Linked DNA regions of Homo sapiens: region 1 is linked to region 2. The links come from fine-mapping of genetic effects on gene expression. Tissue or cell type: cerebellum. Region 2 holds a variant in brackets; the other region holds the start of a gene. All regions are shown on one strand. Distances are from middle to middle.

Evidence for each region. PIP is the estimated chance that this variant, and not a neighbour inherited with it, causes the effect.
Region 1: it holds the start of MPP7, and the variant in region 2 is fine-mapped to the expression of MPP7 in cerebellum (GTEx, PIP 0.97).

Annotation. Positions count from the first base shown.
Region 1 is chr10:28,299,447-28,307,555 of GRCh38, forward strand. MPP7 (MAGUK p55 scaffold protein 7) reads right to left here and starts at 3,618. Exons shown (of 17, transcript NM_001318170.2): 1 at 3,415-3,618. MPP7-DT (MPP7 divergent transcript) reads left to right here and starts at 3,723. Exons shown (of 2, transcript XR_930772.3): 1 at 3,723-4,983; 2 at 5,953-6,825. RefSeq lists a silencer at 3,165-3,804.
Region 2 is chr10:28,908,053-28,916,161 of GRCh38, forward strand. No RefSeq gene overlaps it. Among named protein-coding and RNA genes, the nearest start is that of C10orf126, 66 kb to the left of the region's middle. The variant G/A (reference allele first, on the strand shown) is at 4,295.

The sequences.
Region 1 (8,109 bases), 610 kb before region 2:
TGCAGTTCATGGAGCCCCAAAACAATTAGAATCGTAACATCAAAGATCACTGACCAGAGATCACCATAACAGACAGAATAACAATGAAAAGTTTGCAATATTGTGAGAATTACCAAAATATGACAGAGACACACAAAATGAACATACACTATTGGAAAAATAGCACCAATCGACTTGCAGGGTTGCCAACGAACCTTCAGTTTGTAAAAAACACAGTATCTTCAGAGAGCAAGCCTGACTAACAATTTCCTTCACTTTAAATTCAAAATGAAGGAATACCCTTTCCTTCCGAATGTATCTCATTTAACAAAATTCAAGACTTTTTTTTTTTTTTTTTGAGACGGAGTCTCGCTCTGTGGCCCAGGCTGGAGTGCAGTGGCACGATCTCAGCTTACTGCAAGCTCTGCCTCTTGGGTTCAGGCCAATTCTCCTGCCTCAGCCTCCCGAGTAGCTGGGATTACAGGCGCCCACCACCACGCCCGGCTAATTTTTTCTATTTTTTAGTAGAGACAGGGTTTCACCGTGTTAGCCAGGATGGTCTCAATCTCCTGACCTTGTGATCCGCCCGCCTCGGCCTCCCAAAGTGCTGGGATTACAGGCGTGAGCCACCATGCCTGGCCAAAACTCAAGACTTAAGTCATTCATTACAATTTTGTCTGAATTGCAATTAGGAGAGAAACAGCTGCAGTACCTTTGTATCTTTGTCAGTGAAATGTTTATAACAAGGAAAAACAAAAATCTGTTTGAAATCTCCAGTAAGCGCCCCCCAGTGCACCATCTAGTGGAAGTCAGGTAGTGTCATAATTAATTTAAAGAAAAAAGTCACAGAAACTCTGAAAACCATTGGGGGAGGGGGAGAAGTCAAAGCTTCAGGTAAGAATACAAGCAAATACTTTACAAACAGCCAAAATATCTTTCCAGTGTCCCACAATGCAAGAGGGCTGGGCTTATGAGAATAAATGATTCATTTTCTGTATAATCAACAGATGATAAAAGTTCCTTTATGGAAATTTTTGCTTGGGTGCTAGAAATTTTGACAGGAGAGTAAAAGTTAAATAAAGCCACTAAAACATAAATAAGTAAATAAATGCTGGGCTAGAGTGACAGCCTTGTGTAAGAAGAGTTGCCTTATATGTTACATGAATATGTTAAAATGTACATGTGAAACAGAGGTATTAGCCACAAAACAAGAGATAACTTCATGATTAGAACAGTTACATTCAGGCTGGGTGCAATGGCTCACGCCTGTAATCCCAGCACTTTGGGAGGCCAAGGCAGGCAGATCACTTGAGGTCAGGAGTTCGAGACCAGCCTGGCCAACATAGTGAAACCCCATCTCTACAAAAATATTAAAAAAAAAAAAATAGCTGGGCGTGGTGGCATGCGCCTGTAGTCCCAGCTACTCAAGAGGCTGAGGCAGGAGAATCACTTGAACCAGGGAGGCAGAGATCACAGTGAGCCACAGCACTCCAGCCTGGACAACAGAGTGAGACTCCACCTCAGAAAAAAAAAAAAAAAGAGTTCCATTCAGTAATCCATAAGACATTTTCATGTTCCTGATAACTAGTAAATTTAACAAAACCTAACGATTCTCTAGAATTCCCTAAGCCTTAACATCATACAAGCGGCTACTCCCAACTACCCATTTCAGCCTGTCCCACACTAATGCCCAAACTCCTTTGGTCAAGTTATTCTAATTAAGAAATTATTCTTCAATCCGTCTATAAATTTACAGTAAACACTTCCCGAAACAAAGTCATAAGTCATGATCAAAATGCATTACACTTCATTAGTATTTTCCTTCTGCATATCAATTATTTCTATTCAATTCAAAAAAAGGTACCGAAATTCAATGCTGAGCTAGAGATGCAAACACAAATAAGGTTCTCTAATTTGGAAAGCTTCCCAAAATTTAAAATAGAGATTTTCACACAGCATTCCTAACTTTTGTTTGTTTTGCCTGTGTGGAAAATTACCTTTCACCTGAAATTCAAACTAGCTAAGCAACCTGAATGGAAAGAAAAACCTCGCAGATAATATTTCTTTACTTGAAAATAACCATCTCCACCTCTGACCTGTGTATACGGGATCAAATTGGTATGCAGAAGTTGGCTTGATGGCGGGAATCTTACCCAGATTTTGGATTAAATCCATTATAGGTATAAAATAAAGTAGGAGTAAAGTGGGGCAGGATTCCTTTCATTTCTAGGGCTTTCAGTTGACATACCTGTAAAATGGACATGCTATGCACAGCCTGCCTCAGAAGAGTAGGAGGATGGCATACTATATAATTGATAGAGTGCTATGAGCTTCACGATTAAATGGAAATACTGTTTTTATAGAACCAGAGTGAACCTGAGCATAGAAAACTCTCCAAGGGCCATCGCTGTGACATTACCGCTAAAACTCAGTGACCTTCATCAATTCACTTGTAAACAAGCAATATATTGAGCAAGTCAAAGGAAAGGCAGCAACAATTCAAGATACTTCTTTATAAGTAAATCAAATTACGTAATTAATAGCCCAGGATTTACCTGCAAACTATTACTGCCTGACTAGCAGGTGCATCCCCAAAGCCTCGAGTACAGAGACTGTTTTTAGAGAGCCCCCCCTTTTTTAAATGTGAATATTGCTTTTAAAAATTAGAAAAAGAAAAAAATCACAATTCTACTCCCACCCATGGCACAGTGACAGAAACAAGGTCCCACCCCCACAATCCTTTCAAACCTGCACAGGCATTCCTCACGAACACTCCTCCCCCTCATTCCTACCTCACCGCTCCCCACTTCAGCCCAGACAAAGCTGAGTTACTCGGCTGGGTCTACCTGTCACTTAAGAAAAAGCCCCCAAATAGATTCACGCTAAATGCTGCTTTTAATTTTTTAAATAGCAAATAAGTAAATAAATAATGCTATCGTGTAGATTACACGGCCAAACGCCTGTTCTCAGAAAACATGTAATTAACACGACCCAAGTGAAGACGCCTTTCTGGCTTAGGGAAAGAAAAAAAAGAAGCCAGCCAGCTTATCGCTCCCTTTCAGTCGGTTCTTTTCCCCGGGGAGCCGGACTCTGACTCAACTCCGCAGTTTTTCCTCCACCTGTCGGTTCTCCCCGCTCTGGGTCTGCCCCGCCGCCGCCCCCGCCCGGAGTCCCGCGCGTCAACAGGGGTCTCCAGGGGTCCTCAGGGTCCCGCCCGAGGCGGCCCCGCCCCTGCCCCGGCCCCGCCCCCACCTCCTCACAAGGTGCCCGCCGCGGGCTCCCAGGCTGAGGCGCCTAGAGGCCGGCAGGAGGCTCCGGAGGACCGCGGCACCGCTCGGCCCGGTCGCCGGCGCAGGGAGCAGCTTCGGGGGCCGACCCCACCGCCCGAGCCTAGCCCTGGGCTCCGACAGGCGCTCCCCAGAGGCGCCCCATTACCTGCTCTGGGCTGCCGCGGTCCGCGGGCAGGAGGCGCACTCGCTCTGGCCCCTGCAGCCCCGGGCCCGGAGGCAAGGAGGCAGCGACCGCCACCGCCGCAGAGGACAATCGGGAGCCAGCGGGCTCGGCACCGCCGCGGCGGGCGCAGAACGCACGAGCCCAGTGGGAGCCCGGCCCCCGCCTCCAGCCCGGCTAGTAACCAACACGGCCCCCACCCTCGGAGGGGCGGGACCGCGGTTGGAGGGGCGGGGCGGGGCTGCACCGCCCGCGGGTAAGAGGGGCCTGCTGATAGGCTGCGAAGGCGATAGGCGTCTCAGACTTGAAGACGCCTCTCCAGCAGAACTCCCTCATTGGTCGGCAAGAGAAAACAAAGCTGGGCTCTGATTGGTGACAGCTCTGTAGCTCCTCCTCATACCCGCAGTCCCCGCAAGTTCCACCCCTGCCCGCCCGGTTCGCTCGCCCTTGGTTCCCACTCCCAGGTGGCTGCAGACTGGAGTGTGTTTCATGGACGAGCAACCTCCCTGAGGAGAACCCCGGATACGCAGGTTCATTCGCCAGATGCGAGTTTTCTTAAGCCGCTGCGATTCTCTGATTTCAGTATGAACTTGGTGAATAACGTAATCTTTAACTTCCTTTGGATTCAGACAAGTCTCCTAGGTTTAAAAATGCTGCATAAGATTGAGAGGGATATTGTTATGCACGAAAAAAGACATAAGGTGTTTTCACCTTTGGCGACACTGTAGGTGACTTTTTCTTATTACCTTTTTGTGTTCCATATTGAACATGTACTACATGATTAGAAAAAAAAATTCTTAAATAGAAAAATGAGTAGGGTGCGGAGAATGGTAAAGACAAACTTTAAGGAAATCCAGAGAACTGATTCTTTCACAATAGAAGAAAATACAGTAAACATGCTTAATATCTGAGGGCTACCCCGAAAAAACATGAACTGGTATCAGCGCCCTTCAGCTCTCTTAAAGAACTTTACATATGTGACCGAGGTGCCCCCATACTCCTTCCTATCATGTAACCAACACATAATGTGGACAGCACTACACTGCAAACAGAATTACAGGAAGACTCTTATAGGAAGAATTAGAATCCAAAGTACACAATCAATAAAGCTTTAGAAAAAGGGGTAGTAAAAAGCAGAAGACAAAAAAAAATCAGGTAATATAAATTGGAAAGCTCAGCTGATGGAGGGAATCATCAGAAAAAAAATAATGTGACAACACTTCAAGATGTGATAGAGACTTTGAATGGAAAGCTGAAGGGAGAGGAAGGGGATTGAGATAAGGATCAATGACCTGCAGTTAATATGAGCTCTCAGAACACATCCCCCAGAACTGGTGTCAGCCTAGAAGGCAAGAAGCATTTCTCACCTAGGGACCACTCTCACTTAACTCTCTCTAGCTGCCTTAACATTCTGTTTGTTCTTGTCATTCTCGCAAAGTTCTAAAACAGGCTATTTGAAATTAAGCACTTCCCCCCAGCAACTCCGTGAATTACGTAATAGTGAAAAATGGAGATAGACAAAAAGCAAACCTGAGGAAGGAAAGGAATGTTAAGGTAAACATAAACTTAAAGAGAAGTAAGGGCAAAACACCTGATAGAAAGAAGACAAGAAATTCTTTTTTCTCTCTTACTTCCTGAGAATAAAGTAAAGGTCTTTGGAGGACAGAATAACCTTATTGCCTAACAAAAAGAGTTTTTACCAAACCTTTCTAATAATAACTGTAATTCTAAACTGTAGTCTAAAAATACGTGTCCTAAAGTAAGTACTTTGAGCAAATAGTTTTGAGATCTAATATTTTTACATTGTGTAAGGAAAAGAAGAGGAACTTAGCCTAGTATGAACAAACTGTAGGGAATACCCTTCAAAAGTTTCTTCTACAATAACACCTGAAATTCCATCACTAACATTCTTTCACTGGGATTAAATAATGTATGTCTAAGATTATTCTTTTATTCATTTACTCATCAAACGTAATCAATATTAATCATCAAATACTAGATACTGCAATGAACGAGGCTTTCTACTAAGCACTCAGAGTATAGCCTTGAACAAGACAGACTTGCAGCTGTTTTTATCAGAAGATGGACAATGATCCAATAAAAAGATAAACTTCCAGACCGGGATCAGGGCAAAGAAGAAAACAGTGACCAGAGGGATGGGAGACACACTTAATTTTGGGAAAGGAGAAAAATGCTTTAAGGAGAAATGATCTAAGAGAAATGCTCTAAGATTTGAGGCACCACCTAAATAAGAAAACACCAACTTAGCAAAACTCCAGGGCAGATAAAATAGCAAGAACAAAGGACTTGAAGTAGGAAGAAAAGTGATGTATAGCAGGAACAGAGAGAAAGCCAGCATGGGTATCATGGTGCATAAGGAGAGTGCTACTAGACAGGTTGGAGAAGGAGGTGAGGACCTCGTAGGCAATGGTAACTTTGTATTTTGTTACAAGGATTCCTGACGGGCAACATCGAGTTGCTGATAGTGGAGTAAAATCATTATTTTTTTTTTTCCTTTTTCAGAGTCACCAGTAAAATGAGCATTCATTCATTAAGCCAATCATCAGGAATGGATCTAGGAAGAACCTACTGTTTACTAGAAATAGGTTAGATCTGTGGATATAACAATGAATAAGACAAGACTGGTGGATCTATAGAGAAACTATTACTGCACAGGTGATGGGGAAATCAAGAGTACTATGGGGCCAAGGAGACTGTCCTGCAGCAAATGAGGAATAAGCTGAAACATCAGTAGGAGCCATCCCAGAGAAAAGGGACAGGGTTCTAGATCCAGAGAACAACAGAAGAGCATTCAGCGCCTGCAAGGGAGCAGGGGATCTAATGCAAAGCCATTGCATAACCAGTCAACTTTCCCCACATCACAAGATTGCCTAGCCTGGATGGCCCCAGAATGTTGAAACAAATGTCTAATTAGTAACGACATTCTGAATGCTTGGGAGCTGAGCAAAATATGAGGAGAAGCAACCTGATTTTTGTTTCATATTATCATCTCCTTTATTCCAGCAACAAAAGACACTGAAAATAGTAAATGCCCACTTTCAACCATGACAGCCCTTTTAGGATAGTAACGGTGAGCAGTATTAATCCTATTTGACCAGAACTAGGGCAGAATTGAAGCCCCTGGAGTAGAGATCTGTTCTATTAGCCCCAGCCTTTCCGCCTGCTTCTTGGGATGGCTATCTTTACTTTATCAGTTGAGCCTCCAGCATTAGCAGATACCTATAAGGGAAGAGATCCAGCCCTCACTATGGAGGGCCAGAAAGAGAAAGCACCAGACATTAGGAAATGTCAAAGTATCTCAGTACATCCAGCTGATTAGTGACAGATAAGTCAAAATTTGCAGCAACTAAATAAATCAAAAAGTAGATTTTAAAATGTGATCTTTGAAATATTTGGCACAATGCTTCAAAGCCACTGAAAAGCTATCTCTTCACCCTAATAGAGGACAGAAATTCATTAGATAGACAGAAGAGGCTGCATACAGTAGCCCATGCCCATAATCTCAACAACTTTGGAGGCCAAGGTGGAAAGATTACTTGAGGCCAGGAAATCAACACCAGCCTGAGCAACATAGCAAGACATCTTTACAAAAAATTTAAAAATTAGCCAGGTTTGGTGGTGTGCAGCTGTAGTCCTAGCTACTCGGGAGGCTGAGGTGGGAGGATTGCTTGAGGCCAGGAGTTCTAGGCTGCAGTGAACAGAGATTTTGCCACTGCGTTCCAGCCTGGGCAACAGAGTAAGACCCTGTCTCTAAAATAGATGATAGATAGATAGAGAGAGAGAGAGAGATGATAGATAATAGATAGTTGATAGATAGATGATAGATAATAGATAGTTGATAGATAGATAATAGATCGTTGATTGATAGATTAGATAGATGTATAATAGAACCCAAAGGCAAAAATAAGTTAGTCCTCAGGAAGACCCAGATCGCAGACCTGAAAAGCCAGGAGGAACTCAATGGAATTTTTTTCCATAGCAGGTGCTCTCTCTACACCTGTGCTCTATTCTCCTATTCTGATAACCAGCCCCTGGCTCCTATGTCCCAGTGTCAGAGAAATGATGTTCCAGAGCTGCACCCACAAGGACTAAATCACCTGCCTAACCCTAACCCTAATCATAGATGATGGGGGCTGCAGGGGACCAGTATGGCTGCCAGGGCCCATCCCTGTTTATGAGCAGAGGTTTCCCAGAGAAGACACACTGGGCAGATTACCAGACACGCATTCATTGCACCCCTGACATTTTCAATCGCCAGTCAATGAGGCTTCCTTTCTAGTTACTGAAAGTCTTCACCTGCTGTTTATAGTAAACTGGAGACCTAGAGGCCAAGGCCGAAGGCTTGGATGGTAATTTCCCACATTCTCTGGAAATCTTTCTACTTCAGTTGGCTTCCAGACACCCAGTACCCTTGTGTGTTCCAGTTTCAAGTTGCCATTCTTGTTCAGGTCTTCTAGTAATTTCCTGTTTCCCTATCTGAAGTGTACCTCCTGACATCAATGTATTCAAAGAGCAAATGCTCCTGCCAAATCTATGAGTGTCAGTGAACTAGCCTGCTGCTCTGGGCTCAGATGAGACCAGCTTGCAGAACAAGCAGGACAGAGGCGTGAAGGGAAGCAGATGGCAAACCTCGATCTGCCACCATCCCTTCCACAGGCA
Region 2 (8,109 bases):
AACCATAACCTTCAGCTTCTCACGCTCCCTTCCTGTATGGCTGATATAGTTTGGCCCCGTGTCCCCACCCAAATCTCATCTAGAATTGTAATTCCCATAATCCCCATGTGTGGAGGGCGGGGTCTGGTAGGAGGTGATTGGATCATGGGGGTGGTTTTCCCCATGCTGTTCTTATGACAGGAGTGACTCTTCACGAGATCTGATGGTTTTATAAGCATATGGCATCTCCTCAGCTTGGACTTCTCTCTCCTGCTGCCATGTGAAGAAGGTCCTTGCTTTCCCTTCACCTTCCACCATGATTGTAAGTTTCCTGAGGCCTCCCCAGCCTTTTGGAACTGTGAGTCAATCAAACCTCTTTCCTTTATAAATTACACAGTCTCAGGTACTTCTTTATAGCAGTGCGAGAATGGACTAATACGATGGCTTTCTTATTGAATTGAAGCTCAAAACTAATATTTCAGGAGCCACATTTTGATCTATAAACCTGTATTATTCTTATTTCTAAAAAATTTTTTAGACAGACTTTCATTCTGTCACCCAGTGGGGCAATCATATTGGGGTATCATAGCTCATTGCAGCCTCAACCTCCTGGGCTCAACTGTTCCTCCAGCCTTAGCCTCTAGAGTAGATAAGACTACAAGTGTGTGCCACCATGCCCAGCTAAGTTTAAAACGTTTTGCAGAGACGAGGTCTTGATATGTTGCCCAGGCTGGTCTGGAACACCTTGACACAAGTGATCCTCTCAGTTCAGCCTCCTAAAGTGCCAGGATTACAGGTGTGAGCTGCCGTGCACTGGCCAAACTCTGTATTTTTGAAGAAAAGAGATACACGATTCAGTCATTAGAACAAATGTATCCAAATGTACAAGTGAATTAATTTTGCCTAGACTGATAACTATAGTCCTATGTACTTTTATGGGATTTAGGAATCAGGATAATTAGTTCAATAACCAACAAAACTCAAGTCGCTGGAAACCAGAAGACACTCATGCATATTTCTCTATTATACAATTAAAATTTGCAACTTGGTGAAGGGTCCATTGGAAATACATCCTTTTAAAACCAGTGGCATGTCTGTCATTCCCAGAATGCAGTAGGACCAGGTGACTGGGCCCTCTCTGCTTTGGGGAATCTGGATGTGATGCCAGCACCAGGGATCCAGGTCATCGGGGCACATACCCTTAGCTTCTGAGGAGTCTGAGCCCTGGAAGCTATAGGTCTGGGACCTAAACCAGATTCCTGACTCTCTGGAGAGTGCCCCCAAATCAATTAGAGTTGATATGTGGATGCCATTTTTCTTTGTCCCCTGCAGATTCATGACTTCAATTGAGAGATGAGTTTCAAGCCACCTTTCAAGGAATCCTGGGTAGAATGAAATCTGTTCCATGGAATCTTAAGAAGAAGAAGAAAAAAAATCAAGATCCCTGTGGTAGGTATCAGTCATTGGTTTCTAGTTACTCAACCCTTTTACAAGTCTTAAGGACCCTATAAACTTTGAAAGTTGTAGTAAAATATTTATAGAGCAAGTCAAAGAAAAGTATAAAACAGTGGGTCTAGGTGAAATTTAGACGTGGCTAAAGTTCCTTTTCACCTCTTTTGCTGTTTGATTCATAAGGGTATAGGTACCTGGCCTAGTGAAATAGCAACTCATTTCACCCTGTAGACCGGACATAGTACAATTTCCACAGTTGCAAAGCCATTTCATTCCTTTTCCTCCTGGTGTTTACTTTAGAAGTTCAAGAGACGATTTTGATGAGAAATGACAGTCCGGTGCCTCATGAGAAACTCAGGCCGGTGCCACAGGTGAAAACTCTGAGGTCATTACCCCTTCTGAATTTTCCTGGGAAAGGGCCTTGGAGCCACTCTCCACTGTGACTGAGAAACTCAAGAGGAGCCATTGGTGTTTCAGGCTTTTAGGGGAGATATAAATGGAGGCCTGACTAGTAAAACCTGCCACCCAAAGCCCCAAGGCACTCTTTACTCAGGCAGTCATAGAGCTGGGATGGAACGCCATCTGGAGGAACCCCACTTTGCCTGTGTGCCTCCACGTCCCCAGCCCATCCTTGGGGTTCTTCCCTTCCTCACCAGGATGCAGGGCTGTAATAGCAGGGTGCTGTTCAGCAGCTGCTGCAATATCACTACACGGTAAGGGCTGGCCTTAAGCAACATGCTCTGGGGTTCATAAACATACATGGGGCAGGAAAACGTGATCGCATATAAATGTGTGCAATGTTATTCCGGGAAAAACATGTGAATGTTTTGGAAGTCATAAGGGATTTCCTAAATAACGATGGTGTATGGAATCCAAGAGGTTTTTGCTCAAAGAAAGCCCAAGATCATAACTGAAAGTGTGTTAGGAAGCAAAAAAAGGTCAAAAACCACGGGCAAAATTAATGTCTTGTTGGGTCCTGCTACAATAACTCTGGGGGTGAAATGAAGTTCATGCTCCTTTATTCTGAAGCATGATTATAAAGCAATGGAGTAACGGCTTCAACAAATATATCTGAATGAATATATCTAAATAAATGCTGTGGCCTTCAAGATGGCCATGGCGAAAACTCTAATTATTATGACATATGTTTCTTAAGCCTTTTCTGAGACCCTTCCCAACCCTTCTTCTCCTCCTGTGCACCGCTCTTCTGAGATGCTTGAGGTTTCATACATACTACTATTGTAAATATTTCCATTTAACATTGAAATTAGTTGTTTTCGGGGTTTGTGCCCCATCAAGGATTGGTACAGAGTAAAAATGTATTGCGTTAAAAAATTTTTAAAGTGTGTTTAGTGAATGGCCTTCACAGATAATTTATGACTCGCACAGGAAAACTTGCCTAATGTTTTAGGGCCACATTTTGTATACCAAAGCAGTGTCACCCAATTTGGTCACCTACATTCACCAGCTCCATTTTAAAATAATTTTTGGTTTATTTTAAGAATCAAATACACCTTCTTCTTGGTATAAAGGTTTATAACCATTGAGACTATTCTAAAGGAATGTGCTCTTGGCTCTGGAGGCAATTCCAAAGGAGGAATTTCCAAAATATTTTGAGCTATGACTGCATCATTGTGTAGTGATGCCCAGTGGAAAAATATTTTTTAAAGCAGTAGAACTGTTCCTTAAAAGTTACTCATAGTTACGAGAGGCTGAGCAACCAATTCACGATTGTGACTTCCTTTGTTTTGGGAAAAGTTAGCAGAATAAACACTTCAGTTTGTCCAAGAACAATAATTTGTGTAATGAGCGTCATCCTCAATGTTACTTTAAATGTAGGCTGAGAAGTAATGTGTTCTGTTTAACATAAATAGAGTCCATTTTTAGTGGGACATTGTCCTTGCTGCATCTTTGAATATGGATTTAGATTTTAGTGACTGTCTCTGAAACTGTCTTGGGAAGGTGTGTGTGTGTGTGTGTGTGTGCATGCACATGTGTGTACATATCTGTTTGTATGTATAAATGCATGTATATTTTGTCTATTTGTCTGATTATATTTGTTTTAGGACAGTGCAAACCCTGAGCTAACCCAGAAAGTATCTCGACCCTCTCTTTACTCCACACTGGATGAAAGACTGGGAAAGGAAATTGAATCAGGTTTGCCCGGGCACAGTGGCTCATGCCTGTAATCCCAGCACTTTAGGAGGCCGCGAAAGGCGGATCACTTGAGGTCAGAAGTTCAAGTCCAGACAGGCCAATATGGCAAAACCCCGTCTCTACTAAAAATACAAAAACAATCAGCTGGGCATTGTGGTGGGGGCCTGTAGTCCCAGCTACTTGGGAGACTGAGGCAGGAGAATCGCTTGAACCCAGGAGGCGGAGGTTGCAGTGAGCTGAGATCATGCCATTGCACTCCAGCCTGGGCAACAAGAGTGAAACTCTGTCTCAAAAAATAAAATAAAATAAAATAAAATAAAATAAAATAAAATAAAATAAAATAAAATAAAAAGAAATGGAATCAGGTTTGACCCTGGCTATCTGGGCGACAGCACCAGGCGTGGTGTTATGAAGACCAGCAGATGGAAATGAATCACTGGTGATTGGGGCTGGTGTTTGGGGCCAAGGAGGCTGCATTGCAGCTGGTGGGTGGTTGAAGGGTCCCCCTTTTAGGAAGGAGAAGCTCCCAGTCATCTTGGGATGGGAATGAGCAAGGCTGCCACTTAGTTCTGGGACTGAGAGGCTCCAGCTGGATTCGGAGGTGGGAAAGAGACCTGGAGCCTGGTGGAGAGGAGGCTGACTTGGCTTAGCCAGGCAAAAGGTAGCCAGGAGCTAGGCCAAAGGCCCAAGGCTGGCGTTCAGAGCC[G/A]GGACCCTCTAGAGGAACCCCTTTTGATAAGCATGGGAATGTTTCTCGGAGTTGTAATTGTGTCAGCCCCATGCCTTCAGTACAGTTTTATTAAACAGTTGGGCTGCTCCTCTCTGTGCATTGTGGAAGTACAGGCAGAGCTTGTGTCTGCACTTGGAGTGTCTTGCATGGGGATGGCCGAGCAGCCTGAGGAAGCCAGTGTTGAGCCTGTTCAAGGGAATTTCCTTGCAGGGCTTTGCAGCACCGGCCTTGGAGTCAGGGTGGCTGGAGGGATGAGTGACTACTGGGATGGGTGGGCGGCACATCCAGCATCTCTCCAGAATTCTCCAACATGTTCATGAAGGAGAAGCAGGGAGAAGAATAACTTTCTTGAGTTATGGAATTGGGCCTCAAAGTCATGATTATTTGGATAATAAGAAAACACAGGCTGGGTACAGTAGCTCACAGCTGTAATCCCAGCACTTTGGGAGGCTGAGGCAGGAGGATTGCTTGAGCCCAGGAGTTTGAGACCAGCCTGGGCCACATGGTAAGACTCAGTTTTTACATAAAAAATTGTTTTTAAAATGAACCAGGAGTGGTGGCTCGCATGTAGTCACAGCTACACGTGAGGCTGAAAAAAGGAGGATTGCTTGAGCCCAGGAGTTCAAGGCTGCAGTGCAGTGAGCTATGATTATACCACTGCACACCAGCCGGGCAATAGAGCAAGACCCTGTCTCAAAAAAACAAAACAACTCCTCTCCCCACCTCGAAGCCCCACGATCTTTTTGGTAATTACAGGTGAGTGAGGTCTGGGGACTTACTAGTTCTAACTGGGATAAGTGCAAAGCATTACTATGTCTATAAGATACCTTCCATTTTTTAAAAAGCAAACTTAAAAGTTGAAACAATTCCATATTTTACATGTCTTTAGAGGTTCTCATTATGTACGTAGGTGAAATAATCACAATGTAACTGAAATGTTTAGTTTTCAGCCAGTGGTTTGATTTTCTCTGCTATAATCCCTCTTACTCTGACCTTGATATTCCTCACTCCCCAACAGCTAATCCATTGGTGAGTTAAAGATTTCTCAAATCTGCCAGTATGGTGGCTTACACCTGTAATCCCAGCACTTTGGGAGGCCGAGGTGGGAGGATTGCTTGAGCCCAGGAGTGCGAGACTGACCCAGGCAACAGAGTGAGACCCTTTCTCTACAAAAAGTAGAAAAATTAGCCAGGCGTGGTAATGCACGCCTGTGGTTCCAGCTACTTGGGAAGCTGAGATGGGATCACTTGAGCCCAGGAGGTCAGGGCTGTAGTGAGCTATGATTACACCACAACACTCCAGCCTGAGTGACATTGCAAGACCCTGTCTTCGATAAATAAATACATACATAAATAAATAAAAATAATGCAAACACATTTTTAATTTACAAGACACTCTTTGAGAAAACTATATTCTGGGAAGGGATTATGAAGCTGGATCTGGAATCGTGCCTGGTTCCCGTCCTCTGGCTCATTCATGAAGTGTTGGATGAAGCACTTTGCTGAGCCTAAAGAGTCCTGCTGTGTGGGATGAGGTGGGTGGAGGGACTTGTTAATGCTCATGTCCCATCCAGGGCCCCCTTATGCTCTTCTGATCCAATTCCCAGGAACATCAACTCCATAAAAACATTCCTCTCCCTCGAGCCGCCCATTAACCTTTCTGAGTTGGCTAATGATTAATGTCATTAGCTTCGGAATGCGATGGCAACTCCCCAAGAGGGTATGGCACCCACAGTGTTGTGGGTTGTAAGAACTGTGCAAACCAAGCGAGCTGTCCTCAGTCTGGGTGTGGAGATAATGGTTTTACCCCCTCCAACAGTGACTTTTATTGCAGTCATAATTACTCATCTGTTCAGTTAGCACCTGCCCTACCAGTGGGGAGAGAGAACCCAAATAATAATGTCAAGTTTACCCAACCTAACCAATGCAGACATCACCAATGATGTGATGACCTTGTGTTTGGAAAGCGAAGGTCTCCTTGGGCAGGGGAGCAGCCCAACCACATTTTCTCAGGAACTGCTCTGATTTCCTTTATCCTTGGCCTGGCTCTAGCAGGTTAAACCTTTATGAGATTGTCATTCCCATAGGTCAAAAATGACCAAATATAAGGAATTTCATAGGGTTCAACCCAATATAGTTTGTTCTTGATTTTTCTAGAGTAGTGATAAAAGACACGGGTAGAAAGTAATAAGCAAAGAGAATAACTTGTCAAGTAAGAAAACTCTAACAAAGTTAGGGGTAGTATATTTTAAAAGCTTACTTGCCCTGGAGAAGACTATGCGTATTATACACTCTTGCATTAATATTATATGCATGTGGATTTTGAAATATTTCAACTCCTTGGGTGAGACATTTAAGGTAATGAGTTCCTGAAGTTTCATGTCACTACAGTGCCTGAAAATCGTTTTCATGGAATTTTCATTAATTTCTAATAGATGAGAAGGTTGTATTTACAAAATGAGTGATTGTTGCCTTAGAGATCAGGCAGGACATTGCCAGTAATGAGGGCAGACTGCAGTCAGGAAGTCTTGTTTGAATTAATAGTAAGTGAACTTCAAGACAGCAGAAGTCACTGCTTGTCCCAGATGTCTAATGATGAGTAAGTGAAACAGGAAAGCAAGGAGAACTAGCGCTGCTTGCCTACTGTGTGGCAGCTCTTCACATCCTCTTTCCTTTCATCTGCATACAACTCCACAGGGACAGGGATTATTGTCACCATTTCACAGATGCTCCGAGCAGTATTAAATCAACTGTCAAAGTCCATATCACTAGACATTGGCAGAGCCAGCATTTATGGCCAGCTCAGTTGTATTCAAAGCCTCATCATTTGCTTATGCCAAGAAAGACTGGATGACTTGGTACCAAAGGTGGTCCATGTTTATGGCTTTGGGCCTGGCATCTTCAGAAGTGTCTTAGTTTGGGATTGTGCATGCTGGTGCCATTTTCCTGATTCACAGGTCTCCTCAGCAAGCACTGGAGAAGGCATCCTCAAGTATAAAGCATTGGGACTTTGGGTTGCATTAAAATTTGCCTCCAGTTACTCCCAGCAGAGCTTGGAACGCAGTAGTCAATAAAGCAAATATATATATATTTTTTGAATTTTATTATAAGAGATACATAGTGTATATATATATATTTTAATTTTACTATAAGAGATAAGGTCTTTGTCTGTCACCCACGCTGGAGTGCAGTGGTGCAATTATAGCTCACTGCAGCCCTGACTTCCTGGGCTCAGGTGATCCTCCTGCCTCAGCCTCCTGAGTAGCTGGGCCTGTAAATGCTAAAAACCAGCTGCCAGCACGTTCAGCTAATTTTTCTACTTTTTGTAGAGATGGAGTCTTGCTATGTTGCTCAGGCTAGTCTTGAACTGAGCTCAACCAATCCTCCTACCTCAGCTTTCCCAAATGCTGGAATTACAGGCATCAGCCACCATACCCAGCCTTGCATATTGTTTTGGTGGCATCTCAGATGACCTTGTTAGCTGGATTTTCTTGTCAGAAATCGAGGATAAAAAGGATTTCCAAGTCACTTTTATACAGGATGAAATGGAGCTTTGGTCGAAACCTTAAGCCACCAAACTCTTTTTGGGTTGGGTGAGAGCTGTAGGTTGAGGAGCCATTATATCAAATAACAATTATGACTGGCACTTGAAACGGTGGGGGTGGGAGAGAGGGAATAAATAGTTTGGATGCTGGCTTGGACTGCTGGGCTAATTCTGAGTGCTTCTGTTTTAATCAGCTCCCATGGCGAGAGTCATGGAAAAATACCACTTTCACATGTACACACAAGTACTGA